Regions from separate parts of the Homo sapiens genome. Here region 2 is linked to region 1. Evidence: fine-mapped expression QTL. Tissue or cell type: naive CD4 T cells. Region 1 holds a variant in brackets; the other region holds the start of a gene. All regions are shown on one strand. Distances are from middle to middle.

Region 1 (2,755 bases):
TGGGGCTATGAAGAGTCTGGGACTGAGAAGGTGGCGCCCTCTGAACCACGGACCCAGGGAGATGTCCACATGGGTTGAGGACACCCTGGAGCTGGCGTGTCTTAGAACTCTGCTGCCTAAAACTGGATGTTGCTGGAACCTGAACCTGGGAAGGGGCTGGAAGGAAAACAAGACTGTCTGAGGTGGGCCGGGAGGGACAGCGCCTCTGGCTGCCATGCAGCAGGCGGCAGGTTACGTTCCGTGTTCTCTTCAGGAAAAGTGAGAGCCAGGGAGACCTGGGGACCCAGTAACTGCGATCGAATCCCAAACTTATCAAATGAAAACAAGGTGAACTCTGAAGGGGTAGTTGGAATGTACCAGGTGCTAGGATAAGCACTTCTCATATATTCATATATTTTTCTTAATTTTAATTAAAAAAAGGTTTTTTGGCCGGGCGTGGTGGCTCACGCCTGTAATCTCAGCACTTTGGGAGGCTGAGGTGGGGGGATCATCTGAGGTCAGGAGTTCGAGACCAGCCTGGACAACATGGAGAAACCCCATCTCTACTAATAATACAAATATTAGCTGGACACAGTGGCACATGCCTGTAATCCCAGCTACTCGGGAGGCTGAGGCAGGAGAATCACTTGAACCTGGGAGGCAGAGGTTGCAGTGAGCCAAGATCGCACTGCAATTTAGCCTGGGCAACAGAGTGAGACCCTGTCTCAGAAAAAAAAATATATTTTTTCTTTTTTTTTAGAGATAGGGTCTCGCTCTGTTGCCCAGGCTGGTCTCAAACCCCTGGGCTTGAGAGTTCCTCCCGCCCTGGCCTCCCAAAATGCTGGGATTCCAGGCCCAGCCTCATATATCATTCTGCCTCATCCTCATGAGGACCTGGGAGGCAGCTGTTATCGTCCCTGCTGTAAGAAAGCAGAGGCAGGAGAAAAAGGAGCTAGTCCATGGCCAAGGTGGAATCAGCCCAGCTCTGACTGCAAACTGGCACTGGAGTCCCCCAGGGAGGGGCTTGTCACCTTTGGTGGCACTGCTGATGCTTGGGCTCCATCTGCTCTGTGGGGGCTGTCCTGTACACTGCAGGGTGCTGAGCGGTATCCTTGGCACCCACTGGGTGCCAGGAGCACTTCCCTTCTCTAGTCGTGACAACAAAAATGTCCCCTGGGCAGATTCACATGGGTGAGCACCCCAGGGCCAGCGCCTTCCTACAGGCATGGAGACGTCCATCCAGGGCCACATTTCAGTATCCCAAAGCAAGTAAAATAAACGTATAGTATAATAACACACAGAAATGAAACAGCTGAGGGATGGAAGAGGATTGTGGATGACCTTTGCTACTTCAAACATTTTTTTCTCACTCTGTCACCCAGGCTGGAGTGCAGCGGTGCGATCTCAGCTCACTGCAACCTCTGCCTCCCAGATTCAAGTGATTCTCTTGCCTCAGCCTCACCAGTAGCTGGGACTACAGGCACGTGCTACCAAGCCTGGCTAATTTTTGTA[CT/C]TTTTTTTTTTTTTTTTTTCGGAGACGGAGTCTCACTCTGTCACCCAGGCTGGAGTGTGGAGTGCAGTGGTGCGACCTCAACTCACTGCAACCTCCGCCTCCCTGGTTCAAATGATTCTCCTGCCTCAGCCTCCCCAGTAGCGGGATTGCAGGCATGTGCCACCAAGCCTGGCTAATTTTTGTATTTCCAGTAGCCACGGGGTTTCACCATGTTGGCCAGGCTGGTCTCGAACTCCTGACCTCAGGTGATTCGTCCGCCTTGGCCTCCAAAGTGCTGGGATTTCAGGCATGAGCCACCATGCCTGGCCAACATTTGGTGTACTTACATTATCCTTGCAATGTTAAGTATAAAAAGAAGGATCCCTGTCTGTGTGCTCTCTGTTCCAAACATAGTGTCTGCCTACCCCGGGGGTGTGAGCAGCCTTCTCTTGATCCACATGGGAGGCCCCAGAGGCTCCATCCTGGTTGAAGCAGCCCTGGTTGTCCTCCAGACAATTGTTCCTTGGGGGCCAAATGTCTCACGCTTCTCCAGGGGCCTTGAAGACCCAGAGGCGCAGCCCCTTGCTCCAGCTCTGGCCTTGTTTCTGACACCACAGCAGATCCCGATGAGCAAAGTCATATGTGACTATGACCTCAGGATGTTTTGCTGCCTGCGTGACCCCGAGGGGTTCCAATTGCTCTCTGTCACAGAGACTTGACTGGACTTAGCCTGGGTTGGAGCAGAGCATGGTGGTGAAGGACTAGAAACTCAGCCCCTCCAACTGCAAAGTAGGGAGGGCTGTGGTGACATGCAGCAAGCCATGCTGTGGGTCAGCACCTGCCATTCCTGCTGCCATAGAGGCTGTGGGGCTGTGCCTGCCCAGGTGGGAGGGCGGCACCCAGGCCCTGTTCCACACACTCATGCTGCCACGGGGGTATGGCCTGGACCTGGCTTGCTGCCATAGGCTGCCTGGACTTACTGTTTCCATGTTAAAACCTTCGGAAATATTTCTTAGCCTCTTGGTCTTAGTGTCTCCCTCTTTCACCCCCAGTTCCACAGAGGACACTGGTGGCTGCCTACCAGGCTATAGAGTCAGGGAGCTCACACTCTCTACCACGTCACCTCAGGGGGCTCACACTCCACAGCATCCCCCAGGGAACTCACACTCCATCTCAATCACCTCAGGGAGCTCACACTCCATCTGTATCCCTCAGGGAGCTCACACCCCACCTGTATCCCTCAGGCAGCTCACACTCCATCTGTATCTCTCAGGGAGCTCACAC
Region 2 (2,628 bases), 62 kb after region 1:
GCCGCGGCCAGATTGCCGAGCAGGTAGTAGATGGGCTGGTGGAAGCGGCGGTTGGAGGCGATGGCTGCTATGACCAGCAGATTGGTCAGCAGCACCAGCACGCTGACGGTCAGCCCCAGTGCCACCACGACCACATCCTTGGGCCGCCAGTGGGAGCTGAGCTCTTTGCCACTGTTGTTATAGAAGAAGCCGATGGTCTCGTTGTAGTAGCACTGGCCCATGATGACCATCTGGGGACACAAGAGATCAGTGCATGTGGCACTTCTTGGAAGGACACAGGGAGGGGCGGCAGCTGCAGAGGAGGGTCAGCGCAGGAAGGACAAGGGTCTCAAATTCAGATACCTCGAAGCAAAGTGGCAGTGGTGAGGACTACGGTGGCCTGGAAAAAGCAAGCTCCATGGGGCTGGGGTGGAGGTGGAGGAGCAGCTGTTTCTTACCTACTAATAAGACCTGTGTGCAAGACATCACCCAAGTCAATAGGTTTTTGAACCAGAAGTGAAACAAAACCCATCTATGGTCGAATCCCAGCCCACCTGCCGCCAATGTGTGACCCGGTTTGGGTTGTGGGGAGAGGAGGGTTAGGGAAAGACAAAGGGGTGTGAGCTGCGGGAAGAGATGAGGGAGGATCACTTTGGTGCCGGAGTCAGTGTAGGGAGCAGAGACCCGGGAGCGTGTGCACACAAGGGTGAGGTCACTTGCTAGAACCCTGCGAGGGGGCGGTGCCGAGGCGTGGAGGTGATCGGAGTGGACAGAGAGGCGGCCCCAGAAGTTAGTCGGCGGGATTTGGGCGCGAGTGCTTCCCAAGCGGGCGGGGCAATAGGCTGTTCCGGGTGGGACGGAGGACACTGGCGGTCTCCGGGACAAAGACAGCGGTTGGGGAAGGGATGGATGGCCGGGCCTCCAGGCGTCTCCAGACTGGGGAAGGGGTAGGGGGTTAAGGGATCAGAGGGCGGCGTCCTGGCCCCGCAGGCACGTGCCGCGCCCTTCCCCCGGGCCCAGGCCCGCACCCGCCCGCCTCCCGTCCGTGCAGGCCTCACCTGGGCCTCCAGTCACGCCGCAGACAAGGCGGGCTCGCGGGGGTTCGGGGCGGGCTCGAGGCCCATGGCCCGGCGACTGCGGCGGGAGCGGTAGAGCGTCCGGGTGCGCCCTGTGCGGGTTGCTGAGAGGGCGCGGGAGGCGGGGTCTCCCCGGCGCCCCGCCCCCACCACCTGGGGGAGCCCTGCCCCGCCCCGCCACCTGGGGGAGCCCCGCCTCCACGGCCGCGTCGGGGGCGGTGTCGCCCGGAACCGCAGCCCCCCTGTTTCCTCCCCGCCTCGCGGCCCCTCAGTCGCCCCTATTTCCGGCGCGGGACCCCCACCCCGGTACCTGCACACCTCATGCGCCCGCAGTTTCGAGCCTGCGGGGCTGAGTCACTCGGCGACCCGAAAATTCCCGCCGTGACCCCGCGCTGCCCGGGCGGAGCTCCAGGTGGTCTTGGGTCCGCGCCCCCGCTCCGGACCCCCAACCCTCCCAGCCCCACCCCGCTCTCTTCTTCGTGTCCAATCGGCCGCCGAGTTACAAGCCACTCCCTGATCCGACTTGGCTCCCACCGCCCGGACCCCCGCCCAGCTTCGGCTTTGCCAGCTCGCAGTATCAGCGAGCCGCGGCCTCCTGTGCGAGGCCCACCTCTGCGGCCCCAGCTGATCATCGGGCGCACGCTAGGGTTTTGCAATCCCGCCCCCGTACCCCTCACCCTGGGACAGCGCTGCCCCCTGCAAAGCCCGGCCCTGCCCTGCCCTGCCCTGTGGCTTCCTCCCTCGGCCTCCCTGCGGCGGCCCCGGGCTCCCACGGTCCGGAGCACACAGCCCCATTGTCCCGGTTATCGGTACTTTGTTATACTGTATTTGATTATGCAGGACCGGATCGGGGACGCAGAGCTCCGGGAGGGCCGGGCTGGCGTGACTCAGCCGGGTGCTGCGACCCAGCTCCAACTGCCTTTACGTAGGTGCTGCAGGGTGTTTGATGATGCAAGAAGGAGGCCTTGAGGCCGGGCGCAGTGGCTCACGCCTGTAATCCCTGCATTTTGGGAGGCCGATGCGGGACGATCACGAGATCAGGAGATCGAGACCATCCTGGCCAACATGCTGAAACCCCGTCTCTACTAAAAATACAAAAAAATTAGCCGGGCATGGTGGCAGGCGCCTGTAGTCCCAGCTACTCGGGAGGCTGAGGCAGGAGAATCGCTTGAACCCGGGAGGTGGAGGTTGCAGTGAGCGGAGATCGTGCCACTGCACTCCAACCTGGAGACAGAGCAAAACTCCGTCTCAAAAAAAAAAAAAAAAAAAAAAAAAAAAGAGGCCTTGATTCCCCTAATCTGTAAAATGGGGGCAAGGAGTGCTACCCATGCTGGCCTCTCCCCTAGCAGAGATGCACCCAAGGGCATATAGGACACAGTTTATTAGAGGCCATCAGACCTCAGGCACCACCAGCATGTGGAGTCTGAGCTGCCCACCTCCTCCAGGAAGGTCACTTCGAGTCCGTGAAGGAGGCAGGCAGGTGTGGGGGAGTGACCACAACCAAAGTAGCAAAAGCACCCCTGTCCCAGGTGTCAGAGACTAGGGTGGACCCCAAGGATCTCATAACCTGCAC

Alleles and levels. Positions count from the first base shown, and alleles are read on the strand shown. Sizes are in standard deviations (SD) of each study's normalised expression.
For the expression in naive CD4 T cells of the gene that starts at base 1,166 in region 2, CT is the low allele of the variant in region 1 and C is the other (large effect, 0.83 SD a copy in Schmiedel 2018).

The links. PIP is the estimated chance that this variant, and not a neighbour inherited with it, causes the effect.
Region 2: it holds the start of LPAR2, and the variant in region 1 is fine-mapped to the expression of LPAR2 in naive CD4 T cells (Schmiedel 2018, PIP 0.95).

The regions. Positions count from the first base shown.
Region 1 is chr19:19,565,209-19,567,963 of GRCh38, forward strand. All of the region lies in intron 5 of PBX4 (PBX homeobox 4), which reads right to left. Among named protein-coding and RNA genes, the nearest start is that of CILP2, 28 kb to the left of the region's middle. The variant CT/C (reference allele first, on the strand shown) is at 1,492.
Region 2 is chr19:19,627,055-19,629,682 of GRCh38, forward strand. LPAR2 (lysophosphatidic acid receptor 2) reads right to left here and starts at 1,166. Exons shown (of 3, transcript NM_001395660.1): 1 at 1,038-1,166; 2 at 1-230. The coding sequence starts at 221. It overlaps GMIP (GEM interacting protein), which reads right to left. Exons shown (of 21, transcript NM_016573.4): 21 at 2,422-2,628. RefSeq lists silencers at 917-1,416, 1,787-1,916 and an enhancer at 1,554-2,476.